Regions from separate parts of the Homo sapiens genome. Here all the other regions are linked to region 5. The links come from fine-mapping of genetic effects on gene expression. A gene starts in region 5. Each other region holds a variant in brackets. All regions are shown on one strand. Distances are between the middles of the regions.

Region 1 (5,089 bases), 170 kb before region 5:
CGTTCGGGGTCCCTGACTTCCCGTAATACACGCCTGTAATCCCAGCACTTTGGGAGGCTGAGGCAAGCAGATCACCTGAGGTCAATAGTTTAAGACCAGCCTGGCCAACGTGGTGAAACCCCGTCTCTACTAAAAATACCGAAAATTAGCCAGGCATAGTGGAGGGCACCTGTAATCCTAGCTACTCAGGAGGCTGAGACAGGAGAATTGCTTGAACCCGGGAGGCGGAGGTTGCAGTGAGCCGAGATCTCGCCATTACATTCCAGCCTGGGCAGCAAGAGCAAAACTCCACTCAAAAGAAAAGAAAAGAAACCATCCATGAAATTCATTCAAAATCCTACAATAAGAGAATCTCTAGTAGAGAAAATACTAAGAAATTAAGGAACAATACTACTTTATTGTTTCAATATTTGAGGCAATTATGTTTCAATATTTGAGGTGATCAATCAATGAATTTAGCCTAGATTAAACTTAATCTAATTGAAATTTTAAAAGACTGGGGTGTCATTTGTACTCTTCTAAGCCAAAGTAGTTAGTCATTTAAAATATCTGTATGTGGAATTGTATACACTAAAGATTTTCTTAGGAGTAAATGTGTTTGATGTAAACAGGATATCAAAGGCTTCAAAAGCCTGCAGGGGAAAATGAAATATCATGCGGTTTTATTACTCAGATTTAAATGGCTTGATTGTCACAACTCTTCCTGCAGCAAATCCCCAATAGTCTGATTCTCAAAAGCTTCCATCGGGAGCCTCATCATTGCCAATGTAGATGGAATAGCTTGAGAGAACATCAACATCCTCACCAAAGGTACTATTCCATGCTTCTCAAGTCCCCGTCTCTCAACAGGGTTTCCACTCCCTGCCACACTTGTCACCTGGACTCCAACGTATCACTAGTTCTGAATCTCAAAAAGACTAGCATACAGTCAGTTCCCTCAGCTACTTTGCTCCACTCATTTTTTGCACAAAAAACTATGAAAAACAAAGCAAAATAAAAACATAACACTCAACTCCAAAGATTTAGCCCCCATCCTGGACAAGTGTCTTTTCTGTATGTAGGGATCCTGGGTGGAGACCCTTGAGTTTTGAGCCTCCAAAACATCTGCATTTAGGTGAATGCGGTGGTTGGGCACTTGCTTTATATTTGCATAAAAATGAGGCATTCCTATAGTTCTCATAAACAAAGAAACACCTTTATCCAAAGGGAAGAGGGAAGAATGAGGTCAGATTCTGGAACTGACCTGGATTCTGGTGTTCCTGAGTTAATATTTATTTAGCCTGAGAGGTGACTGTGCATTCACAATGATTTATCTCCAAGACATGTACTGTAAGCCCTCACTTATCATCATCAATAGGTTCTTGGAAACTGTAACTTTAAGTGAAATGATGTATAACGAAACTAACTTTGCCATAATCTAATTGATATAAACAAGAGTTAAGGGCCAGCATGGTGGCTCATGTCTGTAATCCCAGAACTTGGGAGGCTGAGGCAGGGGGACTGCTTGAGGCCAGGAGTTTGAGACCAGCCTGACCAACATGGTGAGACTCTATTTCTACAAAATTAAAAAAAAATTAGCCCAGGAGTAGTGGCCCACATCTGTCATCCCGGTTACTTGGGAGCTTCAGGTGGGAGGAACACTTGAGCCCAGGAGTTTGAGATTACAGTGAGCTATGATTGCACCACTGCACCCCAGCCTGGGTAGCAGAGCAAGACCTTGTCTCTGAAAAAAATTAAAAAAAAAAAAAGAGTTAAGTTTTTATTGTATATTACTGTTTTCTTTTTTCGGGGGTCAGAAAAACATCACCAAACATCTAAATAAATACCAAAACACTTCTAATATTAAACACTGAAATAAATAATGTGAGCCATATATACATTTAAGACAGATTAACAAACACAAGTAAAATAATGATTTAGATAGTTATTCCAGTTCAGGGTCGCAGGGGGCCAGAGCCTGTCCCTGCAGCTTAGGGCACAAGGCAAGAACCAACCCTAGACTGGATGAATGCCATCACGGGGCACAGT[C/T]ACGCACACCTCACACTCACTTAGACTGGGACAATGTCAACACGTCAATTCCCCTAAAGTGCACATCTTTGGGATGCAGGAGAAAATTGGAATGCCCAGAGAAAACCCACACAGATACGGAGAGAACATGCAAGCTCCACACTGACAACAGCCCGGGCTGGGAATCAATTTCTTTTTTCCCATCAAAATTATAACAAAATGACGTTGGACAAAATGACATTATTCAAGGGCCTGCTGGATTTGAGGCAGCCACTGAAAGAAAGGATCCAGCCTCCCTGACTGCTTTTTATACCCAGATTTCCATGTTGATCTCTAGTCAGCAACATAATCATTCCCCAAAGTTGATGAAATTTTGATAAGAGTAACAGCTTTCATGATGAGATGAATCAGACATCTCTCAGCTTCATGTGTGACTCCATATGACCAGCTTATACTTGGCTGCCAATGTTCTAAATCACTCATCAGCTTCAAAGAACCCAAGGGCACACACCAGGACAAGGCTTCATCTGCGCTTGCCGCTAATCATGGTAACTCATGGCTGAGGGTGTGCCCAATATTTTGGCACCAACCTGAGCCCCTTACTGCATCTCAAACAGGCTGGGGATGGTAGGTATCAAGGATAGTCCAATTAGTTTTGAAAAAACAGTAAATGTACTGCTTTTCTAGTCCATAATGCTAACAGTTGTGATATATTGTGATACAACTATGGTGTCAGAAAAACATGCAATTGCCCTTAGGGACTGTCACTGATGATACATTTTGATATAAAACTGCAGATTTTGGCCAGGTGTGGTGGCTCATACCTGTAATCCCAGCACTTTGGGATGCAGAGGCGGGTGGACCACTTGAGGCCAGGAGTTCAAGACCAGCCTGGCCAACATGGTGAAACCCCATCTCTACTAAAAAATACAAAAAATTAGCTGGGCGTGGTGGTGCATGCTTGTAATCCTAGCTACTTGGGAGGCTGAGGCAGGAGAATCCTTGAAACTGGGAGGCAGAGGTTGCAGTGAGCCAAGATCGCACCACTGCACTCTAGCCTGGGCGACAACTGCAAAACTCTGTCTCAAAAAAAAAAAAAAAAAAAAAAACCTGCAGATTTATTATTGTGAGGAAAGGGTAAATAGCAAACATAAATCCTATTTTCCTGGACCCAGGTGTACCCACTAAGATAACTATGAGTTTACTCTCTGGCAGCACTGTGCCTAGGTATGTGCTGAGTTTAAAAATACAGAATGTTAGCAGTGCCTGGAACTCATCATCAACATTGTTTGCTGCCATATATCTCGTCTAGAGACTACACTTGACTTGAGAAGAAAGTAAGTAGGACTTTGCACAAATTCTGGCAAACAAAAGTGGAGGCTTCCATATAATTACAGAGTCTACACCGTATCGACCTCAGCTCTTGAACTGAATGTGCCCTGTGTACTGGTGGAACGTACAGCTGCACCTGTGCTGTTGGGAGACTTTCATATGAAAGTGCTGATGCTGTACATGTTATGTTCCCATCCTGGACACCATCCATTTTCATCATTCTTGGTTATGTTCTATAAAGTCATCACAGACACTTGAGTTAGGGAATACTGAAAGATTACTCCTAGGGAAAATACTCCTAGGTTCCTGCAAGCCTCTGGTCACATTTTCATCAATTGATCAATACACGACCTGTTTTTTGGGGTGTTTCCGTTTAAAGACACCTTATTTAATACATACTGTTGATTCACTAACACTGACCTCACAGCCAGCAGCAGTATAACTCATGCCTGAATTAAGCTTCTCTAACATAGATATTTTCTCCAAAAGACATAATCAGGGCCAGGCACAGTGGATCATGCCTGTAATCCCAGCGCTTTGGGAGGCCAAGGTGGGCAGATCCCTTGAGATCAGGAGTTCTAGACCAGCCTGGCCAACTTGGTGAAACCCCATCTCTCCTAAAATATAAAACTGTAGCTGGGTGCAGTGGTGTGTGCCTGTAGTTTCATCTACTCAGGAGGCTGAGACAGGAGAATGGCTTGAGCTGGGGGAGGTGGAGGTTGCAGTGAGCCGAGATCACGCCATTGCACTCCAGCATGGGCAACAGAGTAAGAATCTGTCTCAAAAAAAAAAAAAAAAAAAAAAAAAAAAGACATAATCATAGCCCTTTTGCACTTAGGAACATGAGACAGTACTTCAGCACTATGCCTGGGGCTGACATTAAACAACAAAATCACCAACATAAAGAACAAAGATGCAAAAAAAAAAAAAAAAAGGCACTAACTATATCAAGTCAAGAATACTTGTTTGCAGTATGAGGGTTGAAACAAGGTGGACAGGGTGTCATCTTCTTTGACCTGGCCAAGGCTGGGAACCACCCTTGGAGAACTCAAAATTTTTTGCCACTCCCTGCATGTCTGCAAATGACCTCAAAAGTGAAACAGTTACTGATTTTGAGTTACACATAAATTTTAGTGAGTTGTTGAATTCACAAATTCAGAATCCACAAATAATGACAGTTAATTCTACTTTCTTAAGACAGTTTAATCTGATGGTAGCTTAAAGTATATTTGGATTGCTATCCAAACCTAAGAACATTGTTGGTGGCTATGAAATTACGCTGAGGGGTCATAATCATCACTTTTGGTAAAACTGCAAAATACCAGATGCAAAGCACCTGATCTAATCTCCCTTTCTCAGGGGGTAGGCAAAGCTGGCACATAAATTTCAAAGCTGAAAGTAGCTTCTTGGGGGCTGGAATCAGGGGGGAACCTACAAGAGCTGGTCAGGAGCAGGAGGAGACATGGGCCTCAGAGAATTCAAATCATCAAAGTTGGTAAAACTAAGTCCACTCTTAAGAATAAAAAAGGTAGGCTGGGCGCGGTGGCTCACGCCTGTAATCCCAGCACCTTGGGAGGCCGAGGTGGGTGGATCACCTGAGATCAGGAGTTTGAGACCAGCCTGACCAACATGGATAAACCCCATCTCTACTAAAAATACAAAATTAGCTGGATGTGGTGGTGCATGCCTGTAATCCCAGCTACTCGAGAGGCTGAGGCAGGAGAATTACTTGAACCTGGGAGGCAGAGGT
Region 2 (5,089 bases), 990 kb before region 5:
GATGGAGTTTCGTTCTTGTTGCCCAGGCTGGAGTGCAATGGTGCAATCTCGGCTCACTGCAACCTCTGCCTCCCAGGTTCAAGCAATTCTCCTGCTTCATCCTCCCAAGTAGTTGGGATTACAGGCATGTGCCACCACGCCCGGCTAATCTTTTGTATTTAGTAGAGACGGGGTTTCACCATGTTGGTCAGGATGGTCTTGAACTCCTGACCTCAGGTGATCCACCTGCCTTGCCCTCCCAAAGTGCTGGGATTACAGGTGTGAGCCACCGCACCCAGCCTGTGTCTTCATCTATAATGTGAGAACATTGAGAATCCTTTTCTCACTCGGGTGTTGGGAAGATGAAATGATGTAGTGCTTTGTAAATTATAAAGCGCCCTTTGTAAATCCTAAAGCATCGTGCAGCATCAGCATAGGGGATGATGGTATTTGTTTTGCGTCAAGGTCGGGCTCCGTGGTGGGACTTGCCAGCAATGCTTGCAAGATGGAGGTGCTGCCCTGAGCTTGCAGGTGGGTCACCCATTGCATAGCCTCATGACACGCTGCATCTGTGGTCTCCACCAGCGTGTCCTGCCATGACTGAAAGCTCTCTGCAAAGCTGAGCAGGTTAAAACTGGGGAGGAGGAAAAGAGGAGGTGAGGGGCAGAGAAGGGGAGAAAGAGATTGGTTAGAACAGGCCTGTCTAGATTGAATTCAGATAAGTTACCCTCATGAGGACTATTCTTGCTCGTCACTGAAGACCCCTACAACGAGCCCTGTGGCCCCTCAGGGAGAGGGCTGTGGGGCCTCTTGAGAATGAGAGGGTACACACTGACAATTTGAATGCAGACAGAAATAGATTTAAATCCCAGCCCAAGCCAGACACAGTGGCCTGTGCCTGTAATCCCAGTACTTTGGAAGGCCAAGCTGGGAGGATTGCTTGAGGCCAGGAGTTCAAGACCAGCCTGGGCAACATAGTGAGACCCCCATCTCTACGAAAAAGATTTTTAAAAAATTAGCCAGGCATGGTGGTGTGCGCCTGTAGTCCAAGCTACTTGGGAGGCTGAGGTGGGAGATCACTTGAGCCCAGGACGTTGAGGCTGCAGCGAGCTATGATCACACCACTGCACTCCAGCCTGGGAGACAGAGTGAGACCCCGTCTCAAAACAAACAAGCAAACAAACAACCCAAACAATCCTATCTCAGCCAGTGACTGGTTACCCGATCTTCAGCAAGTGTCTTAACCTCTTGAAGTCCTGGCTTCCTTTTCTGAAAAATGGGGGCCGATAACAGCAACACCTCACGGGCTCATTGTGAGAGTTGATGAAATGATGCGTGTAAAGCATCTGGTGCACAGAAAGTGCTCAATAAATGTATACTCTGATTAAGGCAAGAACGAGGCCTAGTCTACGATGAGAGTCCCCTGGGGTCCCCTTCGGGTCAACCCTTCTGGATGGGGAAAATAAACAACTTCCTCCACTCAAAAATCAAGTTCACAAAAATTAAAAAAATTAAATCATTAAATAATTTAAAACAAATCAAGTTCAGCTGAAAGCCATACTTCAAGGCCACATGGTAGTTCCTTTGCTGTGCTTGCAATTGTCCCTAGGCCTGAAATTAATTTTTAAAAATTGCGTTCCTTTTTTTTTTGAGACAGGGTCTTACTCTGTTGCCCAGGCAGGAGTGCACTGGTGCAATCATAGCTCACTGCAGCCTCAACCTCCTGGGCTCAAGTGATCCTCCCTTCTCAGCCTCCCAAGTAGTTGGGGCTACAGGTGCACACCACCATACCCAGCTAATTTTTAAATGTTTTGAAGAGATGGGATGACACTTTGTTGCTGAGACTGGTCTTGAATTCCTGAGCTCAAGTGATCCTCCTGCCTTGGCCCCCAAAATTGCTGGGATTACAGGTATGAGCCACCATACCCGGCCTCTAAAAACTGATTTCCTTCACAGCAGAGCAGAATACAGTGCTCTTTCCTACTCAAACGCGTTACTCAGAAGAGCATCTCAGAAACTCCAGGCCTGTTGGCACTGAGAAGAGGGGGC[G/A]TGCTTGGCCAGGGAAGCCCCAGGAACTGCCCCTTTGATCTTCCTGATCAGCCCTCGCCTCCTACCTGTCACAGCACTTCCGCAGCTGTTCCCAAATCAGCAAAACCAGCTCTGTCTTCACCTGCTGCAGGTAGGGGCCCATGGACCCTGACGTGTCCAGCAATATGCATACTTTGCTCTCCAAAACGGTGCCAAACAGTCGGCGGCTCCCTGCTCCGAGACAGGTGGGGAAGAGGCAGGGAGGGAGTGAGGGGTCCCTCCTCCTGGGTGGTTTCCCTCACTCTATCTATCAAGTATAAAGTCTTGTGACACCTGTTGCCTGCCTGATCATTGATTGGATGTCACCCCACTGAGAGACGGCTTTTGTGGTGCTGTGGGAGGGGTCGATTGTCCAAGGACAGACCTGGTCAGTGGTTTGGGCTTTGGGAGATCGAGATTTCAGCTCTGGCTTTGTCTGTGATGAGTTGCACAAGCGGTTATAACCTCCTGGGCTTGAATTTCCTTATCCTTAAAGTTAAGTGATTGGATTAAATAGTACCATGACATTGTTTTAAAATATTAGATGGTGTTTGGGTGTGTACTGGTATGTGAGCTGGGGGATTCATACTACAAAAGAAATCGCTGGATCTCTGGTTTTATGTCACCGTTCCCAGGGGTAATGTGAACCGAGGGTGGAGAGAGGCTCACGCCTTCTCTGTCCCAGCTCAGCCTCTGACCTGACAACTGTACCTGAAGCAGCAGTCATCATGACGCCCCTGTCCATGGACTGTCTATACCAGGTCCTACTGCAGAGGACTGGACCTAATGAATTTACACAGGACCCTGAGTGGCACGTACAAAGCCACCTGTAGGATCTCTATATAGGACTCCCTTCCTCCCTCCTCCTGATGCCCCAGAAACCCTCCAGGCCCCATAGCCCGAATCCCCTCCTGTCCAGTTCTAGCTGTCTGCCTGTCTTCTTGGGCTTGATGCTTCCAGACCGTCTCTTAATCCACAGCCCAACCCTGTCCATTCACCTCTCCTGGAGGGGACTTGGTGCTCTCTGTAAAGAGGTACACAGTAGCTCACACCTATAACCCCAGGACTTTGGGAGGCTGAGGCAGGAGGATAGCTTGAGCCTAGGAGTTCGGGGCCAGCCTGTGCAACATAGAAAGACTCTGTATCTAAAAAAAATAAATAAAGTAAGCTGGGCATGGTGGCACGTGCCTGTAGTCTCAGGTCCTTGCAAGGTTGAGGTGGGAGGATTGCTTGTGCCCAGTTCAAGGCTGCAGTAAGCCATGACTGCACCACTGGACTCCAGACTAGGTGACAGAGAAAGACCCTGTTTCTAAAACAAAACAAAACAGAGGGTTTCTGCTCTGTCAGTTCCCCTTACCATCTGCATCTCCAGGGGCTGTTTTGCTGGGGCGCAGTCAATATTAAAGCAAACCTTTTGACAGTGAGCCCCTTGTCACTTGCAGGAAGGCAAGGTGTGGCAGGTGGCCTTGCAGAGCAGGCTGGGATGCGTGTGAGCTCCCGCTGGGGCTCTTTGGCCCATGTTCCACCTCCCTGTTATCCAGCCCCTTGCCTGTCCTCTGAACCCACTGTCATTTTTTTTTTTTTTGGATAGAGTTTCACTCTTGTTGCCCAGGATGGAGTGCAGTGGCGCGATCTCAGCTCACTGCAACCTCTGCGATTTTCCTGCCTCAGCCTCCTGAGTAGCTGGGATTACAGGTGCCCGCCACCATGCCTGGCTAATTTTTTGTATTTTTAGTAGAGACGGGTTTCATCATGTTGGCCAGGCTGGTTTCGAACTACTGACTGGTGATCCACCCACCTTGGCCTCCCAAAGTGCAGAGATTACAGGCATGAGCCACCACGCCCGGCCTCCCAGTGTCATGTTGTATGTGGATGATGTTCCTGGCCTAATCCTCTGATCTGCAGTTCTTGAAGGCCTGGCTTTGGAAGGACTGACACTGGGGTCCCTGGGGCTAGCCTTCTACATCCCCTCATGCTCCTCCACCCTTCAGGGCAGTGGGCAGGCTCACCGGACAGCAGCCACTGCAGCCTCTGGACATAGCGCCTTAACACCTTCTCCAAGTGCCTGATGTACACCTCCATCTCCCTGGGCGTCCACTGGATGTGTCTCACCACTCCCTGGGTTAAGGCAAGCAGAGGCAAGCACCCACCCCATCAGTCATTTCTTCATATCCCCATCACCCCCTAAAATTGTTTATTCCATTGTGGTTAACAATTCTCAAAATATTTGTTGGCTGGGCACGGTGGCTCATGCCTGTAATCCCAGCGCTTTGGGAGGCCGAGGCAGGAGGATCGCTTGAGCCCAAGAGATCAAGACCAGCCTGGGTAACATAGGGAGACCTCATCTCTACCAAAAACAGAAAATTTAGCTGGTGTGGTGGCATGTGTCTGTGGTCCCAGCTGCTTGGGGGAGGCTGAGGTGGGAGGATTGCCTGAGCCCAGGGAGGTAGAGGCTGCAGTGAGCTGTGATTGCACCACTGCACTCCTGCCTGGATGACAGAGCAAGATCCTGTCTCAACAAACAAACAAAAACCCACAAAAAACAACCATCTGTTAAGTGTATTTTTTTTTTTTGTTTAAAGCCTTTTTTTCTTCTATTAAACTAGTGGATTTATGGTTCTACAAAGGAGTAGGGAATTAAGATTTTTTTTTTGGTAAATGCAGTTGCTATATTAATAAAAATCATAATAATTTCTGATTTTTTTTTTTTTTTGAGACAGAGTCTCAGTCGGTTGCCCAGGCTGTGTAGTGCAGTGGTGCGATCTCGGCTCACTTCAGCCTCTGCCTCCCGGGTTCAAGCGATTTTCCTGCCTCAGCCTCCTGAGTAGCTGGGATTACAGGTGCACAGCACCATGCCTGGCTAATTTTTGTATTTACAGTAGAGACGGGGTTTCACTGTGTTGGCCAGGGTGGTCTCGAACTCCTGACCTCAGGTGATCCGCCCGCCTTGGCCTCCCAAAGTTCTGGGACTACAGGCATGAGCCACTGCGTCTGGCCAATAATCTCTAAATTTTAAAATAGAAAACTCTAAATGGTGGGGTAA
Region 3 (5,089 bases), 110 kb before region 5:
GAGAGGGGACAAAGCAGCCTAGCATCGTATGGCAAGGAATTAATTCATGCAAAGGCCCTGTGGTTGAAGGAAGTACATGAGCTTGGGAAGCTGCAAGGAAGCCAGTATGGCTGGAAGACAGGAAGTGCAGGGGAACATGGCATGGTGGTATGAGAGACAGCTTTAGAGATAGGAGGGCCAGACCATGCAAGGCCTTGGCAAATGCAAATGAAACAGACTTTCAGACTCTTTAAATGAGAAACCCAGCAGATTCATATACGTGTACTTAATAACCTGCATGCTTAGGAGAAAAGATTGAAGTGCCACTAATGCTGTTTAATAAATCTTATAAACATATGATTAAAAATCGGCTGGGTGCAGTGGCTTACACCTGTAATCCCAGCACTTTTGGAGGCCGAGGCAGGTGGATCACTTGAGGTCAGGAGTTCGAGACCAGCCTGGCCAACATGGCGAAACCCCATCTTTACCAAAAAAAAAAAAAAAAATTAGCCAAGTATGGTGGCACATACCTGTAATCCCAGCTACTCGGGAGGCTGAGGCATGAGAATCGCTTGAACCCAGGAAGCAGAGGTTGCAGTGAGCTGAGATCACACCGCTGCATTCCAGCCTGGGCGACAAAGCGAGACTGTCTCGGAAAAAAAAAAAAATTTTAAAAATATCAATTATCACACTATTACCAGGGCAACAAATTATCAAGTAAGACAACCAATTAGAATTACACATTTAGTTTAGGAAGTTGAAGGTTATTTTTATGGGATACTGTAACAATTTCTGAAGCTCACCTGTACTTTCAAGAATAGATTCATATTAACTGAGAACAGAAGAAAATGGTAACAATTAAGGAAAAAAATCTAATTATCCTTATCAGACAGCAACATAAGATTTCTAGTCTTGTGGATATTATCATTTTGAAACCTTTTCAAATCAGAGACGTTAAACTATATTTTATGGCACAGAATGGTATCTCTCCTTCGGTAGCTGCAGGAGATAAAATTAATTCCTAATATTTCAGAGATGCTGTTTTGCTAGTAATTAGTAGTTAAGAAGACTTTTCACTTTTTAAATATTATACTCCAAAATTCCAGTGAGTAGCATTTTATAAAAGAACAGACCACAGGGAACTCAAAGTTTACTAAATGGAATAGAGAAAAGGCAGAAGAGGGTTTTATTTAATACATATGGTGTCGAGGGCCAAGTGATGTCTTTCCTCTATGCCAGTGGTTCTCCACTGAGCATGAGTTTGCCACCTGCTCCAGAGACATTTAGGAGTGTGCAGACGTTTTTAGTTCCCACAACTTGAAGGGGTGGAAAATGCTACTAACATCTAATGGATAGAAACCAGAGATACTGTTGCACATCCTATAATACACAGGTTGGTGCCCCTCCCCAATAAAGAATTGTCCAGCCCAAATGTTAGTAGTACCGAGGTTGAGAAGCCCAGTGCTACCTCTTGTAGGTCATAGTAGGTATGTACCAGTTCTGTGCAAATAAGACTACCTCTGTCCTCATGGGGCTTAAAGACCTGTAGAAGAAAATCTACAAACAAATAAGTGCTATGGCCTGGTGCATTCTATCAAGGAGGTCAGAAAGGCTTCATTGGAGAGGTGGCACTGGACGTGAGTTGATCACAGAATCCTGCTCTCAAACACAGACACCCTCAGGAGATGCCACAAATGCTAATTCTACATTCGTCTTTAGAGGAAGACAGAGGCAGTGAAAAGATCAACAGAGTTGGCCCAGTGAATATAGCTAGAACCCTGGGAAGGAAGGGCTCACAGAATCCAGGCAGCTCTTAGAAGCAGCTCAGAGCTCTGAGAAGTGGGTATGGCTGAGCATGTACCTGAGATATGAAGAAAGGACATGGGCTTTGGAGTATGGAAGACGTGACTTTAGAGCCACACTGTGCCCTTCAATAGTTGTAAGACCTGGCTAGGTGCGGTGGCTCACGTCTGTAATCCCAGTACTTTGGGAGGCCGAGGTGCACAGATCACCTGAGGTCAGGAGTTTGAGACCAGCCTGGCCAACATGGTGAAACCCCATCTCTATCGAAAATACAAAAATTAGCTGGGTGTTGTGGCGCACACCTATAATCCCAGCTCCACGGGGGGCTGAGGTAGGATAATCACTGGAACCCAGGAGGCAGAGGTTGCAATGAGCCAAGATCGTGCCACTGCACTCCAGCCTAGGCGACAGAGCGAGACTCCATCTCAAAAAAAAAGAAAAGAAAGAAAGAAAGAAAAAGAAATAAATAAATAATTTTAAAAAGTAGTTGTAAGACCCAGAGCAAGTTCACCTTTCTGTTACCAGGGCAACCTCAGTCTCTTCATCTGTAAGAAGAAGATAGTAGGAGTCCCCAACTCGTAGGGTCAATGTCTAGACTAAATGAGATCATGGGGGCAAAGCATTGGCATACATTAGCTGTTCAGTGAAGCCTTCTTCCTTCTTTTCCCACTTGATACGGGGGAAACTAGACACAAAAGGAAATTCTCTTGATTGCCTGCAAGCTCTTGAGGGAGGCAGAAGAGAGGGCAGAAGTCACCTGATACTCAAACCATCTTAGTTTTTTACCCGTCTGCTAGGGTCTCCCTTGACCTTTGCCACTTCATTTCTCTCATATAGTTTCTGAAACCTCCCAGCAGTGAAGTGCTGTGCATCCTTGGGGCTGGGGTCCAGGCCTACAGCCATTATGAGATCTTCACAGAGCAGTTCTCCTTTAAGGAGGTAAGTCCAGGGGTGGGGGTGGGAGAGAAGAGGGAAGGGGGTGGTCCTTGACCTGTCTATACTGCTTCACTGCACCACAGGTTATTCTGAAATAATTAAGTTGTGAGCCCCATCTAGACCATTCTTGTATCTTCATGACTTCCCAGAAGCCCTGATGGAGGGGATGGAGGATAAGAGTCAGGGGAAGATCTGATTACCTGTTTCCAGTCCTCAGTTCAGAGGGCATTTGTCTGAGGATACAGCAAGCTTACTCGGTTAAAAGATTCTATTATATCTCTTGTATACATTCAGTTGTCCTTTTAGCTCCTGTCTATTATGTTTTTCTTAGGAGAATCC[A/G]GAGTTTTTAAGTATTCAAGGTTATGGATCAAGAAACTGGGTGGGATGAGACCTGGAGACCAGGAGGCCACAGCCTCTCTCTTTTGCAGTCTCCATACTGGTCCACCTTCCCCCCACTGCGTCTCATGCTTCCCCCTGGGAATTTTTGATGCTATTGTTATTTTATGTGTGTGTATGAAAGGGATGGAGCAGTTTTAAAGTATGATTTAATGATGAAAATAAAACCACTGCCTTGAGAAATATAGACTATTAGGTGAGTGCAAAAGTAATTGCAGTTTTGGCCATGACTTTTTTTTTTTTTTTTTTTTTTGAAATGGAGTCTCGCGCTGTCGCCCAGGCTGGAGTGCAGTGGCATAATCTCGGCTCACTGCAACCTCCATCTCCTGGGTTCAAGTGATTCTTGGGCCTCAGCCTCCCAAGTAGCTTGGATTATAGGCGCCCACTACCACACCTGGCTAATTTTTGTATTTTTAGTAGAGATGGGGTTTCACCATGTTGGCCAGGCTAGTCTGGAACTTCTGACCTCAGGTGATCCACCTGCCTTGTCCTCCCAAAGTTCTGGGATTACAGGCGTGAACCACTGCGCCCAGTTGCCATTACTTTTAATACAAGGAAGAAAACAAAAGAAAAATGCCCTTTCATCTGTTTTCAAAGACAGTTAATGTTTTCTGATCTTCCCTCTTCAGCTTTTTATAACATAGCTTTAGTCACGTTAGATATGCACCATTTTATATCCTCTCTTACTGAATGTTCTAACATCACTTTTCAGGTTATCTAATTTTTGCATAAAATTTGCATAGTCTTCTATCAAGAAGGGTGAAGAGGTTAACCATGCACTTCCGGCCGGGCAAAATGTCCTGTTTTTCACCTTGCTTGGTGAACTTGCTTAGACATAAAGTTTGTTTCCGTATGTATTATATTTCCTTATGAGAAATTCTGTAGGCCTTATTTTCAGTTGACGGGTGACAAGCCCTTGACCCAAACATTGAAACCTGTCAAGCAAGTCGGCAAGTCCCCAGCTCCTGGTGAGGCCGCTGCCCCACCCTCCAACCCCAGCACCTTTCAGGATTCCAGCCGTAGCTACCATTCTTGGCCTTTTCATTGGCTATGCCATTTACCTTCAAACTCGTCTGATCTTGAATTTCCTAAGTATTCTTCACCGATCAAGTTATTCCATGAAAAACATTATCATAAATAATCCTTCATATGAATCTCCCACCCATTACAACTCCTTTACGGGGTCTCAGACATAAAGTGTGAGTTCCACACAGACTTTGCCAGTTATATTTCCATTTTACAGATGTGGAAACTAAGGCTGAATGACATGAAGCAATTTCAGGAAATAGCAGAGTGGAGATTGGTTCCAAGCCTACCTGGCTCCAGAACTTGCTCTGCTAATCATTATGCTATTAATATATAATAGCTATGAAGTTACTGAGGCTGTGCCTCTTGGCCTAGAAGTGAAATACTTCCACTCATTTTAAAAGGGGAAAGTGGTAGAGAACGCTGATTTTCAAATACCTGGCTAGGTGTCTAAGTTAATGCTGTACCCCTGATCAAATGTCCATTCTCCATGGGGAATGATTTAGGAGTGATTTAGATAACCACTGACCCCTATGCCAGAGTAGTTCAACTTTCCCTCCGCATCCCTGGGCTCAGTGTAACATAAGCAGCCAAAAAATGGCGCCAATATCCTTCTTGTTACTCCCAATGAAGGTGAGGATATGGAACCGCACCAAAGAAAATGCAGAGAAGTTTGCAGACACAGTGCAAGGAGAGGTACGGGTCTGTTCTTCGGTCCAGGAGGCTGTGGCAGGTGCAGATGTGATCATCACAGTCACCCTGGCAACAGAGCCCATTTTGTTTGGTGAATGGGTGAAGCCAGGGGCTCACATCAATGGTAAGTAGAGTGGCTCCATAAGGCATGATGGGTGGTGGCCAGGCTCCTCTCTAGACGGGACCAGTCGACTACATTTGCAGAGCCAGTTTATTCATGCAGAATGCCCAAGCTATTTAAGGGCCTTGAAAACAT
Region 4 (5,089 bases), 210 kb before region 5:
CCCAGGCTGGAGCTCACTGCAGCCTCAACGTCCTGGGCTCAAGTGATCCTCCTGTCTCGGCCTCCCATGTAGCTGAGACACAGGCACGCACCCCCATGCCCAGCTAATTTTTTAATTTTTATTTATTTGTAGAGATGAGATTCTGCTATGTTGTGCAGGCTGGTACCAAACTCCTGGCTTCAAGCGATCCTCTTGCCTGAGATTCCCAAAATGCTAGGATTACAGTCAGGAGCCACCTTGCCCAACCCCAGATATTTTCATAGTTGTAATGCTAGTGTATACATAATTTTGTGATCAATTTTCTTCACTTAACATTGGCTCTTTAACATTTTTTCATGCTGGCAATAATAATAACAGCAGCAACAGCAACTACTATTTACTGAGCATTAACTATGCACCAGCCATTGCAGTAAACACTTTACATCTGACATCATCACAACCAAGGCCATCTCCATGTGAAAGACAAGGTCTGAAGCCAGGACAAGTGAAGTGACTCGCCCAGCAACACAGTTAGTAAACAGTATGGCAGAAAGGGACCCCAGAGCTCACTGCAAACCACTAAATCACACTGCCCTGCAAAATGAGGGGACTTGGCCCTCTTCAAAATGATCACGTTCACAACTGTTTAATATTCCAAGTGGGGGAAGCTGAGTCTTTGCAGTCGGACCTGGCTTCCAATCTAGGAGCTAAACAGGCTCACAGTCCCCTCTGAAATGTGACAAAGGCTTTGAACCTGCCTTCCAGAAGGAGGCAAGTACACCCATCTCCAGAAACTGCATGGCAGGCTAGTTAAGTTCACTCTAATGTTTCAATTCAACTTCACTAGGATCCACTGCATTCTTCCTGGGAGCTGTGAACCAAGCTAGGCTATGTGTCACCAGCTAGAGACAACAAGAACTCGTCCCTAAGGGGCTTCCAGTCTAGCAGGCAGGACAACAGAGAAAAAGTCCATTCAACCAAATGACCTTGAGCAAGTCACTCAACCATGCTAAGCCTGAAAATCCTCTCCCATAAAATCAACACAAAAGTGCAGAATCGCCCAGGGTTACTGGGGTAACTAGAAAGGGAAGGAAAGCACCGAGCACAGTGCCCAGTCCATGATGACCAATCAGCATTTGCTTAATAATTAATTCTCTTCATAGCAGAGGGCATTCGCGTGGGTTCCTTTTTGTGTTAGCAGCATCTAAATGTATACATCCGTATGAGCGTGCATAAGTATTTGTGGATCAAGACAATCACTGGGATCATTTAGGATAAACTTCCCAGGAATAACAAAAACCAGCAAGAGGGCAGGTCCCTCAAGACTGTCTTCTGTCTCAATCCCTAAATGTCAAACTAATCCACTTCCCAAGCTCATCCGATCAGTCTAATCCACACAACTGTACAAAACAGCCTTCCTTCCACTCTCCGCCTCACTCAGAAACCAGGACGGGGAATCTGGCGACAACAACGCCCTGGGCCAGCCGGCCAACAACGTATTTCAAAATACCCCAGACCATTGTCGGTACGTCCATCACATTTCCAGTCAAGTGACTCTCACTTGCAGCCTGTCTTGAAAAATGCAGTCACCTCCCTCCGACCTTGAATCTACATGAACGCTTTAAAGTGTGTTTTCACCTTTCAATTCTGCAAAATTGCTTACTGCTACAGAATCCTTTTAAAGCTTGTCAGGGTGATGCTGCTGATGATAAGAATTATCCCAGCAGGGTTCCGCTTCCACTGCCAGAGTTAATGTGGTCTATTTAAAGGGCAGCTCACCTGCCAATTAGCGCCTGCGGTGTCCGTAATTTAATTTAGGGATATACACTGATCTGCTTTGAAACATGGGGTTAAGTCAAAAAGCGGGCAAGGGCTTCTGGTTCTCCAAACACCTGAAAGCCGAATGCCAACAAGAACAAGTGCCAGGAAGGGGTGTTGAGAAGAGCTGCCCCGGGACACCTATTAACAGAGGATGACTAACAGCACCAGGCTTTTGGGAAAGTTTCTATCAAGACTTAACTATCACCGATGCCCAAGAATTCATTCCTTGGGGACCACAAGGAAGACAAAAACCTTGTCCCAAATTCTAGTTCAGGCACTGTGTGACCTTGGGAAACTTATTTTGTCCTCTACTTTCTTCATCTGTACAGTGGGGAGAACAGTACCTATGTGTATGGATTGCTATGAGGGAAAAATGAGAAAAAGGAATACATGTAAAGTGTATCCAATAAATGCAGTGAATAAATGTTAGCCATAGTTATTAACATACCTGGCATATAATTGGTGCTCAACGAAAACCAACTATTAATATCACTACTACACGTGCACCAAACAGCATTCCTTTTCCTTGTTTGGGGTTTTGTTTTGTTTTGTTTTGTTTTTGAGGGGTGGGGTGCGGACAAGGTCTCACTCTGTCGCCCAGGCTAGAGCACAGTGGCACGATCATAGTTCACTGCAGTCTTGAACTCCTGGGCTCAAGCGATCTTCCCATCTCAGGCTCATGAGTAGCTGGGACTACAGGTGTACACCACCATACACGGCTAATTTATTTTTTTCTGTAGAGACAAGGGTCTTACTATGTTACTCAAGCTGGTCTTGAACTCCTAGAATCAAATGATCATCCAGCATCGGCCTCCCAAAGCACTGGGATTATAGGCGTAAGCCACCGAGCCTGGTCCCTTTCCCTTTCTTCTAGTAAGACCACCCCTCTTTCCTATGGGAAACACATTCCACTGGGATCCTTCAGCACTATCCTAACCTCCCCCTACTGCAGGGGTGGACAGCTAACCCAGGGCAGGCAATTAACTGGCCGGAACCATGGCATATGCAACTTTCATTTTTTTTTAATATTACATAAAAATAGTATTTATCTTGATTGATAAGTTTTTTGGTACCGCCTTCAATTTTGTGGCCAAAGTGAGTGTGTCACTAACCTCACCCCAGTCTCAGCCCTGGACCACAGGGTCCCTTCGCACAAGTTCTACCAGAGCCACCAGAAAAGAGGCCTTGTCTCCTCCAGGAGCTGAGGTCAGCAAACAATGGCCTGGGGGTCAAATTTGGCCTCCAAACTGTTTTTGTAAGCACAGTGGTCTTGGAAC[G/A]CAGCCACACCCATTTGCTCCCATATGGTCTGTGGCTGAGTTTCTGCTCCAGTGGCAGAGCTGAGTCACTGCGATGGAGATTGCATGGCTCACAAACCCTATAATATGACCCATAAGGAGGGAGTGTGCCGACCCCGTCCTAGAAGTAGGATCTCTCATCATCCTGGAAACCTGGAGCTACTTGGGGCCATTTTCCACCCCATCATGTAGAGACCCCCCACCTGGAAAGACACCCAACCACAGAGAAGCGGTGCTGAGGGATGACAGATGGAGACAGATTTGGGAGAAGGGCAGGCCCCCTGAATCCAGCTCAACTCCAAGATGATTTCTTAGATACTTGAGTCAATAAATAAATGTCCTTCATCTTTTTTTTTCTTAAATCAATCTAAAGAATTTTCTATCATTTGCAACCACAGGAAATAATGCAGTGAGACAGGGCATGTTCTTCAGTCATCTGACAATCATCTATAGAAGACCAAGAACACACCAAGTGCTGAGCAACACCTGTGCTCCACAGCCATGGGGGGTGAGGGGTGTCTCATCAATGTGACAACACTGCCCCAAAACAAAGCATTGCTCAACAACAACAAAAAAAACAGAAAACCCGCCGGGCACGGTGGCTCACGCCTGTAATCCCAGCACTTTGGGAAGCTGAGGCAGGTGGATCACGAGGTCAGGAAATCGAGACCATCCTGGCTAACACGGTGAAACGCCATCTCTACTAAAAATACAAAAAATTAGCCAGGTGTGGTGGTGGGCGCCTGTACTCCCAGCTACTTGGGAGGCAGAGGCAGGAGAATGGTGTGAATCCGGGAGGCGGAGCTGGCAGTGAGCCGAGATGGTGCCACTGCACTCCAGCCTGGGCAATGGAGCAAGACTCTGTCTCAAAAAAAAAAAAAAAAGAAAAAAACAGAAAACCCAAGACCAGCCTGGGCAACATAGTAAGAACCCATCTCTAAAAAAAGGAAACAGAAAACCCAACTACAAGGAGCCGAGTGTGGCAGCACACACCTGTAGTCCCAGCTACTTGGGAGGCAGAGGCAGGAGGATGGCTGGACCCCAGGAGTTTGAGGCTGTAATGAGCTATGATTGCACTACTGCACTCCAGCCTAGTTAACAGAGCAAGGCCCTGTCTCTAAAAACAAAACAAAACAAAAAAACCCACACACAAAGAAAATCCAACCCCATGGAGCTGGGCTAGTCTGGAAATAGGCCAGTGATACAAAGGCTATGTCAGGCCAAAACCTCCAACCTTTTGACCTCGCTGTCACAGAGGACTGTCCTAACTTTGGGCATCTCATTTACAATTGAGCAGGAAGAAAGGGAATGGGATGAAGCCAGCTTTATCGCCCCTTTTATCAGGAAAGAACAAGTAATCCCAGAAAATCACAAGGGAGCAAAGAAAGCAAAGAACAAAACTCAAAACTGGCTTAATCCCTCACCGAGATAAAGGAGTACATACCACAGCCTCAAGCAAAATCTGGGTTCTATCAAAGCCAAAGAAGACAGAGGGATGAATCTGAGGGCACACTCTAACAGAATCAGCCACACATGGTATCAGCCATGCCAGGAACAAAGGTAAACCAAGTTCACTCATGTGCCAGCCTGAGAACTCAGTGAATACAAGTGCTCCTAAATCTGTCACATCCCAAACTGAGCCAGCCTGACTGCAAGGCACAAATGGATTGGCAGAGCAGAGTGCCAACAAGGGGCTGAGCTCTGTCACTCTACCATCTTCCAACTAGCCACAAGACTGCCTTCCAGAACCAGGGCTCAGCATAACACACCCGCATCCTACAAGAGTTTACAGCATACCACCTCCTTTATTAAAGAGTAGGAAATAAATTAACCAGGCACAGTGGCATGCATGTGCAGTCCCAGCTACTTGAGAGGCTGAAGTGGGAGGATCGCTTGAGCCAGGAAGTTCAAGGCTGCAGAGAGCCATGATTGCACCACTGCACTCTAGCCTGGCAACAGAGCAAGACCCTGTCTCTTATTTAAAAAAAAAAAAA
Region 5 (5,084 bases):
TATCTCTGACAGCTTATGTTTATTTTTTAGCTTGACAAAATGCTGAAAATATACAGAAAGCAAGAAAGCTGAACACACTATTTCAAATCTCATTGCCTTTTATTCTCCCTAGAAAGCTTTCCTTGTACAACAGTAGCCTTGACCTGTTTCTCTTCTTTATTACTGTACAGGTTGGCTCCCAATTCCATCATTCCATACATCATCATCTACTTACTTGTGGGTAAGTCTATCCCTGCTAAGGAGAACTGCACCTCGGGGGCAGACCTCACCACAGTAATTATACTCTAACTAAACTGCCTGGAATTTTGAGGGGTGTCCCAATCTCATACAATTTTTACTTATTTTTAATAAAGGCAATTGGTTAAATTAGATATATTTTTTAACCCTTGTTGAGTTTTCAAATATAAAAAAAAAATCATTCTTATTTTATATTTCCCAGAACTGGCTGGACACAGAGATATCTTTTCCATTTCTCCCTTTAAACTGACCTGACCTACAGTACAAATGCTTAAAAGATTGTGTCCACGTGGCCAAAATTAATTGAGAGATCCTCACATTTATTTATCATATAGGGGGTAATTTTATCTACTACTAAGCTGTACAGGGTCTAGTATGCAAATTAAAGCACATTTTAATCATCCCAGCTAGACATCCTCTGCTACTTCCCTTTTGTAAAACAAGAAACCCTTTGGAGGGGAAAGTTGAGGAGGGGACTAATCCCACCACCCCACATTCTCTCTTTGAAGCTGCCTCTGGCGTAGGTCTTGAACTTGGGATGTTCCCAGCACTCAGTTCCCATAATCTCATCTCTGCAGCAAGCAGAAACAAGCGGAGTTCCCCTTACAGGTCTCCTTTGGCCTGGGAGCCTCAAGTGCCACCCAGACCGGTTTGGGGAGTCCGATGAGAGAGTGCGTGGGGCGAATGCCATCGGCCACAGCCTTCAAATGCGTCTACCTGGCCACCAATTCCCAGACCCCCTGGTCACTCACTCCTCGGAGGGGCCTCCCCAGGCACGGAGCTGTCTCCCGAGAAGGGAAAGCGAGAACCCGGCGCGGCCAAGGAGTGCCCCGCCTTCTTCACGCCTGGGGGACTGGGCCAGGCCAACACCAGCTAACCCTTTCCCCTTCCAAGGCTCCAAATAAATCTCCTGGCCCTCCCACCCCCGAACCTCCAGGGGAAAACGGCTACCTCGAAAGTTCAAGCTGGGAGGAGGGGTCACATCTCTGGTTGGGGGATGGGAGCTACAGGGCGCCTCGAGCTCACACTGGCCGCCCCTCCCCATCCGGGCCCAGCCTTTCAGCGTTCAAAAGCCAGGGAGACCCAAGGAGAGGAGGAAGGGAGTGAAATGCAGGTGGAGAGGGGGTCCGCGTCCCAGAAGGCACAGAGACTGAATAATGGGAACTCAGAGGGGAGTCGAGTACTTAGTTATTAATTTGGGGGTAAAGAAGCCCCCTTTGATACTTGCAGATCTCTCTGCAGCGATGGGGAAGGGGACCTCGGTGGAGAAGAGGGGCTGGGTGGTGAGGAAGGCGCCCGTTTTCAATAATCCTAGGGAGGTTTGCCTCGACGTCTTCCCCAGGTTCCCCAGAAAGGGGCACAGTCTCGGGGTGTGGTGGTGCTAGCTACCATTTTACCTAATCTAGTGGTAGTGTGTGTGTGTATGTGTGTGTGTGTTGGGGGGTGGCGGGGTGAGTGTGCATTTAGGGGTGGGGAGGAATCGTGTCTCCTCGTGCGCTCCCAGCCCCGTCCCGGCGACTCATAAGCAGGAGACGCCCCTTACACTAACCCCGGGGCAGAAAGCTACGGGCGTGGGACCCCGATAGCGCGCTCACGCCGTCGCCCCCGCGCTCCTCCTCTGTCCCCGCCCGGCGAGAGGGGTCTAGCCACCCGGGGCACCCGGACCCCCACCCCCAAGCTCCGAGCTCTCACCTGCTCCTGACCGCCGAGCAGCCCCCACCGCGTTTGCAGGCGAAGCGAAGAGAGGCAGGAGGAGGAACAAGAGGAAGAAGGAAAGAGCGTCCCGAGAGGGAGCCAGAGCCGCCTGCCTCCGCCCCCTGGCCCGGGCACCGCCCCTCGGCTCTTCTCCTCTGGGCTCGCCCCGCCCGTGGCCGGAAGGATCCGGCAAAGGCGCGCCAAGGCCCGGCGCCCAAGGCTTTGCAAAGCGCGCTCGCTCCCACTGGCTTTCGGAGCCACTAGAACAAGCCCTGAGAGGTTGACAGCTGAGGAAACTGAGGCTCAGAGAGTGTCCCTTCCCACACGACTGGCTTGGAGTGAGAAAGCTCAGACCACCTTCAAGACAGGCAGACTGGCAGCCGAGAATGAGTTTTCCAAGGGTGTCAGGGTTTCCCCTCCTGTATGCCTAAAACCAGCTGCTCTGGAACGTCTCTGGCGCTCAAGACACACACGTGATGAAGTATCACCCTGGCTGGAAGTTTTTAACCATGACTGCTCAAATGCGAATGTCATAAGCCAGTGAGATCCTTTCAGATGGATTGGATGTCCATTTTACACATGAAAAAGTCCAGGCTGAGAGAGACAAGATAAATCAATCCAAATTCCTCGGTTTGCATGGATCCAAGTCGGAGCAGGAGCCCCTGTTTCCCCTGGCCCCAAATCTGCCCTATAGAGTAAGGTTTCTGAATAGTATGCTATTGACATTTGGGGCGGAATAATTCTGTTTCTGAGCTGTGGATTGTAGAATGTTTAGCAATATCCTAGCCTCTACCCATTAGATGCCAGTTACAAGAACCGCCCCCCCCCACCTCCAGTTGTGTCTCAAAATATTGCCAAATGTCCCCTGGAAGGCCCCATCGTCCCGAGGTGAGAACCACTGCTATAGAGCATGATGGCAACTTACTGTGTGACTAAGTAACCTCTCTGAACCATGGCTTCAACCATAAATTAGAGAGAGGGATAAGCCCAACCATTGGTCTGCTGTTGCACAGTTCTCAGCCACTTTCCAGACAGGGACCTGTGTTGACCGACCTCTCCTCTTTGCCTGTGGCCATAGCAACCTGGAAAATAAGTCTTTAGATAACAAAAAGCTGGCAGGGTGCGGTGGCTCACACCTATAATCCCAGCACTTTGGGAGGCTGAGGTGGGCAGATCACTTGAGGCCAGGAGTTCCAGACCAGCCTGGCCAACATGGTGAAACCCCATCTCTACTAAAAATATAAAAACTAGCCAGGCATGGTGGTGCGCACCTGTAATCCCAGCTACTCGGGAGGCTGAGGCAGAAGTATCGCTTGAACCTGGGAAGTAGAAGTTGCAGTGAAGACACTGCACTCCAGCCTGGGCAACAGAGTGAGACCCTGTCTCAAAAAAAAAAAAAAAAAAAAAGAAGCAATCACAGGGTTGTAGTGAGGACTGGTGCAATAGTGTGGCTGTGGCTGTCGAGAACTTAGCACCTATTGAGGCACAGAGTAGGGGCTCAAAAATATTTGCTTGGGATGATGATTTATGATGATGATCACGACAATGATATGATAAACCACAGAATCCTGCTGTAATTCCACAATAGCAGAAAGAAGAGCTAATGGTGGGGATAGGACAGACAAGAATCCCTAAATTCTTAAGTTTTAGCCAATCTTGTCTGGCGTCATGCACTTTGTTCAGCTGCAAAATGCTGGGTTCCCCACCCAGGAAAAGATTGTGTGTGTGTGTGTGTGTGTGTGTGTGTTTCCTTAGATTACAGCCTTCCAATCATCATTCCCTAAATGGAAGTTGCTTTGGAAAGCTGAGTTAGGGTTTCCACTGGGATTTTTGTTTAAGAGTGCCATCTAGGGGCGTCTCTGTGAATCTTCAAATTCCTTCCACCTCTGGCATTTTTGGCTGGGCCAGCAGAGTTTTGCTTGTCTTTGTGTGATAGATGCTTCCTCCATCACATCATGTGTTCCTCCAGGGCTGGGATCCTAGCATCTCTCCATAGCATCAGGACTTGGCCCTCAAGGAACATGCAGTGGTTGGGTTAAAAAAATCCACGCGCAGCCTCTCCTATGCTTTCCCAATTACTTGCTGCAATGGACTGAATGTCTGTTCCTCTAAAATCCTAACCCCCAATGTGATGGGATTAGGCATGGGGTTTTTGGGAGGTGATTAGGTCATGAAGGTGAAGCCCTCCTAAATGGGATTAGTGCCCTTATAAAAGAGATCCCAGTGGCTCACACCTATAATCCCACCACTTTGGGAGGCCAAGGTGGGTGGATTGCTTGAGTCTAGGAGTTCGAGACCAGCCTGGGCAACATGGCGAAACCTCTTCTCTACTAAAAATACAAAAGTTAGCCGGGCATAGTGGCACATGCCTGTAGTCCCAGCTACATGGGAGGCTGAGGCAGGAGGATCTCTTGAGCCCAGGCAGTGGAGGCTGCAGTGAGCTGAGATTGCACCACTGCACTCTAGCCTGGGCAACAAAGTGAGACCCTGGCTCATTAAAATAAAATAAAATAAAATAATAAAATAAAATAAAATAAAATAAATAAAATAAAATAAAATAAAATAAAATAAAATAAAATAAGAATAACTCCCAGAGAGCTCTCTTACCCTCTTTCCACCATGTGAGGATACAATGAGAAGTTGGCAGCCTGCAACATGGAAGGGGGCCTTCACTGGAACCAGACCACCCTGGCACCCTGATTGTGAACTTCCAGCCTTCAGAGCAGTGAGAAATAAATGTCTCTTGTTTATAAGCCACCCAGACTTTGGTACTTTGCTATAGTAGCCTCCAAGGATTGAAACTGTTGCTCTGCTTAAACAACTATTTTAGGCCTCAGGAATGAGCTGCCAGGAATACCAGCCTCTGAATAAGAAATGTGTGAAATTTTTTTAGCAACAGATTAAGACCCTAAACTCTTGATAACAAGAGGCAGGGGCAACTTGGAACCTTGCTGACCTCTGCTCCCCATGTTGGCAGATTTGGCAAATAAAAACACACGACACTCAATTAAATCTGAATTTCAGGTAAATAATGGGTAACTTTTTAGTACAAGTACAAGTACAGCCCATGTATTGAATGGGACATGCTTATACTAAAACTTTTTTTTTTTTTTTTTTTTTTTGAGACGGAGTCTTGCTCTGTCTCCCAGGCT
Region 6 (5,000 bases), 63 kb after region 5:
CATATATGTAGCTAAAGTACATATGAAAATTATGAAAACGGAGATATGGCTGTCATAGAGTGGAAACAGAGATGATAGGGCAAGTAGCTGATTATCCTACAGTTTCAACCAGACAGACCTCAGCTGCCAAGGTCCTTGGAGGTGGCAGAGGGACATTCTTGCTTGAGTTCATGCTTTAGTTTCCTCTCTTACTCTCCAGATGAATAAGCATTTCCCTCCACTTGGTTTTCAAGGCACTGAGGAATTTGCCCTGGTGTCTTCGAGGGCTTAGGAGAACAACCCATCCCATAAACAGCATCTCCTTTTGCCCTGCAGTTGATCAATAAGGAGGAAGAGCTATTGGAAAAGGAGAAGAGTACTTACCCTCTTCTGCAGGCCATGCTGAAGAACAAAGTACCTTATGAGCAGCTGTGGTCGACAGCCTATGAGTTCAGCATCAAGTCAGAGGAATGGATGAATGGTATGTGGTGATCTCACTCTGCTGGGACAGATGGGGATGAGGTGGAGGATCCACCCAGTCACTTCTGAAATATGGTTTGCACTTAAGAATCTGGCTGGACTTTTAATCAGATTCTGACACTCCAGATTAAGGCAGCCACAGTCAAAATTATCTGATGTGATAATAAAAATGGAAGGTGGAGAAAGAGCCAGATCTATTTCCAGGGTAAAACACAATAGGCAGCCACCCAGAGTCACGACTTAGATTTGCAGATGGTAGGAGAACAGATGGCAGTTTCACGATGGTGCTGCTTCAGGAAAGACCAGGGTGCCAGGGTGCCATAGACATTTGTAAACTACCTTTTACTCTAGGATCTGGGGTCCAGAAAGGTATTGAGGAGTTGGAATCAACAGGACTTAATGATTGATCCGATATGGGTTAAGGGGCAGGGAGGAAGAGGTTACTATCCTCTCAAAGGTAAGAATTTTATTGCCTCAGAGGTAAGAATTTTAATGCTTAAAGAACTTACTAGCTGACCTTTGGGAAAAGTTACTTAGCTTCTCCAAGACTTAGTTCTCTTACTTCAGGGATGAGTGAGGATAATAACAGCAAAGAACCAACTTCCAGATGACTGGCTCAGGCAATTTGGTTGGTATTACCATCACTGAAAAAGAGAAGTGACAGATTTGTTGGGAAAAAAACAAAACAAAACAAACAAATAAAAAAAAACCCATCAACTTGAATACATTGAGTTTGAGGCACCTGGAAACAATCAAATGGGAATATTAAATAGCAATTGAGTGTATCAGTGTGGATTTTAGGAGAGAGATTTGGCGGGTGGGATTTATGTTGGGGAATAATTGATGTGTAGATTACAATCAAAGCCATGAATGATAACACCTGTGGAGGGTGTTGAAGAACAGAGGACAAAATCAGAGATCCTTGTCTGGGTGCAGTGGCTCACACCTGTAGTCCCAGCACTTTGAGAGGCTGATGCAGGGGGATTGCATGAGCCCAGGAGTTCGAGACCAGCCTCAGTAACATAGTGAGAACCCTGTCTCTACAAAAAATAAAAAATCAGCCAAGTGTGATGGTGCACGTGTAGTCTCAGCTACTCGAGAAGCTAAGATGGGAGGAACGCTTGAGCCCAGGAGATCAAGGCTGCAGTAAGCTATGATCTGCTTACTACACCCCAACTTGGGCATCAGAGCAAAACCTTGTCTCAAAAAAAAAAAAAAAAATCAGAGACCCTTAGGTTTGAGCCTTTAGCAAGTTTCTAGTGCTTCAGTATTTATAAACACAAGAAAGCCAGTCATGGTGGCTCATACCTGTAATCCCAGCACTTTGGGAGGCCAAGGTAGAAGGATTACTTGAGCTCAGGAGTTTAAGACCAGCCTGAGCAACTTAGCAAGACCTTATTTCTACTAAAAACAAAATGAAAAAGTTAGCTGGGCATGGTGGTGTGCACCTATAGTCCCAGCTACTCAGGAGGCTGAGGCAGGAGCATCGCTTGAACCTGGGAGGTTGAGGCTGCAATCAGCTGTGATGGCACTACTGCACTCCAACCTGGGAGACAGAGCGAGACCCTGTCTCAAAAAAAACAGTATTTATAAATTACCAAGTGTTTTTATTAGAAATAGGTATTGTATTTTAAAAACATTTTACATTTTATTTTTAAATTTATATACATTAAAATGGACATTTTTGGCATACATTTCTATGAATTTTAACAGTTGTTGACTTTCATATAAACATCACTACAATCAGAAAACAGCAATTTCATCAACTCAATAAATTTCTTTGGACTGTCTCCTTGTGGTCAAATCCTCCCCCCAGTTGTAACCCCTGGCAACTATTGATCTCTTCATTGTTCCTATAGTTTTGTCCTTTTGAGGCTCCTCCTACAAATGGAATGATACAGTATGCAATCTTTCAAGACTGCTTCCTTCACTCAGCACACTGCCTTTAAGATTCATCCGAGTTGTTGGATGTAGCAATAGGTCATTTCCTTTTATTGCGAGTAGTATCCCATTCTATGGATACACCAGCTTAACCATTTACCCACTGTTTTCACTCTCAGACTATTATAAATAGAGATGCTGTAAATATTTATGTCAACGTTTTTGTGTCAATGTAAGTTTTTATTTCTCTAGGGTAAATGCCCAGCAGTGGATTGCTGAATTATATTTAAAGTATATTTGCAAGTTTATAAGAAAATGC[C/T]AAACTTTTGTTTTCCACAGTGGCTGTGCCGTTGTGCATCCCTCACCAATGTGTGATAATTCCAGTTGTTCCACCTCTTCATCAGTGTATTAGTCCATTTTCATACTGCTATGAAGAAATACCTGAGACTGGGTAATTTGTAAAGAAAAAGAAGTTTAATGAACTCACAGTTCCACTTGGATGGGGAGGCCTCACAACCATGGTGGAAGGTGAAGGAGGAGCAAAGGCACTTCTTACATGGCGGCAGGCAAGAGAGCATGTGCAGGGGAACTGAGCTTTATAAAACCATCAGTTCTCATGAGACTTATTCACTATCATGAGAACAGCATGGGAAAACTCGACCCCATGATTCAGTTACCTCCCACCAGATCCCTCCCACAACATGTGGGGATTATGGGAACTATAATTCTAGATGACATTTGAATGGGGACACAGCCAAACCATATCAACCAGCCACTGGGTATTATTGTCCATATATATATATATATTTGAGATGGAGTGTCACTTTGTCATACTTTGTACAGTGGTGTGATCTCGGCTCACTGCAGCCTCCGCCTCCTGGGTTCAAGCAATTCTCCCACCTCAGCCTCCCATTTAGCTGGGATTACAGGAGCATGCCACCACACCTGGCTAATTTTTGCATTTTTCGTAGAGCCGGGGTTTCACCATGTTGGCCAGGCTGATCTCAAACTCCTGACCTCAGGTGATCCACCTGCCTCGGCCTCCCAAAGTGCTGGGATTACAGGTGTGAGCCACTGTGCTTGGCCTGTATTTTTTTATTTTAGCCATTCTCATAAGTAGTTGTGATGTCTCATTATGATTTTAATTTGCATTTCCCCAATGCCTAATGATCTTGAACATTTCTTTATGTGCATACCTGTCATTTGTATATCCTCTTTGGTGAAGTGTCTGTTCAAGTCTTTTACCCATTTGTTTAATTGGTTGTTTGATTTCTTACTGTTGAGTTTTGTGAGGTCTTTATAAATTTTGTGAGATTATGTGATTTACAAATATTTTCTCCAAGTCCATGGCTTGTTTTTTTATTCTCTTTATAGTGTCTTTCACAGAGAAAAAGGTTTTAACTTTGATGACGTCCAACGTATCAATTTTTCTTTTATGGATTGTGCTCTTGGTATCATCTCTAAGGACTCTTAGCCTAACCCTGGTCATGAAGATATTCTCCTATATTTTCTTCTAGATTTTTTGTGGTTTTATGTTTTACATTTAGACCTATGGTCCATTTTGAGTTAATTTTTTTAAAATACGAGGCTTAGTTCAAGTTCATTGTCTTACATATAAATGTCCAATGGTTCCAGTAATTGGGAAAAAAAAATTTTTATCCACTTAATTGTATCTTTGTCAAAAATCAGTTGTCCATATCTTCGTGGGTTGATGTCTTGACTCTATTCTGTTCTGCCAATCTATATGTCAAGCCTTTCACTGATACCACATCAACTTGACAACTGTATTTTTATAGAAAGTCTTAAAATCACATAGTGTGATTCTTCTAACTTCATTTTTCTTTTTAAAATTTTATTTTGAGTATTTTAGTCCCTTTATTTTTCCACATAAATTTGAGAATCAGTTTGTCTATACATACCAAAAAACTCTGCTGGGATTTTGTTGGAAATGTTTTAAATCTATAGATAAATTTGGAAAGAATTCACATCTTTATTACATTGAGTCTTTCAATCAATGGACACTTTACATCTCTTCAATTATTTAGTTCTCCTTTTACTTCTTTTTATCAGTGTTTTGCAGGTTTCAGCATACAGCTCCTATGCATGTTTTGTTAAATTTATACATAAATATTTCCTTTTTTGGAGCTATTGTAAATGATGTATGTTTTTGAATTTCACTTTTTGAGGTAAGTACTATGAAGCACAATTGCTGGATTATATGATAAGAATATGTTTAGTTTTGTAAGAAACGGCCAAACTGTCTTTCAGAGTTGCTGTACCGTTTTGTATTTCCACCAATATAAATGACATTTCCTGTTGCTCCACATCCTTGCCAGCATTTAGTGTTGTCAGTGTTTTGAGTTTTGACCATTTTAATAGGTGTGTAGTGGTATCTGTTGTTGGCTATTGTTGTTGTTATTGTTTTTAAATTGAGATGAGGGTCTCACTAATTTGCCCCAGGTGGCCTCAGATTCCTGGGCTCAAGCAATCCTCCCACCTTGGCCTCCCAAAGTGTTGGGATTACAGGCATGAGCCACCATACCCAGCCACTCATTGTTTTTTAATTTGTAGTTCCTTAATGGCAATGATATTGAACATCTTTTCATATGCTTATTCACCTCTTGTATATCTTCTTAGATTAGGTATTTGTTCAGAGCTTT

What was found. PIP is the estimated chance that this variant, and not a neighbour inherited with it, causes the effect.
Region 1: its variant is the best candidate, but not a certain one, in a credible set for the expression of LDAF1 in whole blood (TOPMed, PIP 0.63).
Region 2: its variant is the best candidate, but not a certain one, in a credible set for the expression of LDAF1 in whole blood (INTERVAL, PIP 0.80).
Region 3: its variant is the best candidate, but not a certain one, in a credible set for the expression of LDAF1 in whole blood (INTERVAL, PIP 0.70).
Region 4: its variant is the best candidate, but not a certain one, in a credible set for the expression of LDAF1 in whole blood (INTERVAL, PIP 0.68).
Region 6: its variant is the best candidate, but not a certain one, in a credible set for the expression of LDAF1 in aorta (GTEx, PIP 0.72).

Annotation. Positions count from the first base shown.
Region 1 is chr16:21,322,836-21,327,924 of GRCh38, reverse strand. No RefSeq gene overlaps it. Among named protein-coding and RNA genes, the nearest start is that of CRYM, 47 kb to the right of the region's middle. The variant C/T (reference allele first, on the strand shown) is at 2,029.
Region 2 is chr16:22,145,311-22,150,399 of GRCh38, reverse strand. VWA3A (von Willebrand factor A domain containing 3A) reads right to left here. Exons shown (of 34, transcript NM_173615.5): 27 at 4,056-4,164; 28 at 2,094-2,238; 29 at 469-613. Among named protein-coding and RNA genes, the nearest start is that of SDR42E2, 15 kb to the left of the region's middle. The variant G/A (reference allele first, on the strand shown) is at 2,029.
Region 3 is chr16:21,267,422-21,272,510 of GRCh38, reverse strand. CRYM (crystallin mu) reads left to right here. Exons shown (of 8, transcript NM_001376256.1): 4 at 2,620-2,721; 5 at 4,774-4,957. Among named protein-coding and RNA genes, the nearest start is that of CRYM, 8.3 kb to the left of the region's middle. The variant A/G (reference allele first, on the strand shown) is at 3,058.
Region 4 is chr16:21,369,007-21,374,095 of GRCh38, reverse strand. It overlaps the pseudogene SNX29P1. Among named protein-coding and RNA genes, the nearest start is that of NPIPB3, 54 kb to the left of the region's middle. The variant G/A (reference allele first, on the strand shown) is at 3,078.
Region 5 is chr16:21,155,592-21,160,675 of GRCh38, reverse strand. It overlaps LDAF1 (lipid droplet assembly factor 1), which reads right to left and starts at 2,002. Exons shown (of 5, transcript NM_001301771.2): 1 at 1,930-2,002. It also overlaps a transcript of DNAH3 not described here. RefSeq lists enhancers at 721-870, 1,005-1,505 and silencers at 1,763-1,942, 1,993-2,122.
Region 6 is chr16:21,092,815-21,097,814 of GRCh38, reverse strand. DNAH3 (dynein axonemal heavy chain 3) reads left to right here. Exons shown (of 62, transcript NM_001347886.2): 18 at 316-460. Among named protein-coding and RNA genes, the nearest start is that of DNAH3, 56 kb to the left of the region's middle. The variant C/T (reference allele first, on the strand shown) is at 2,660.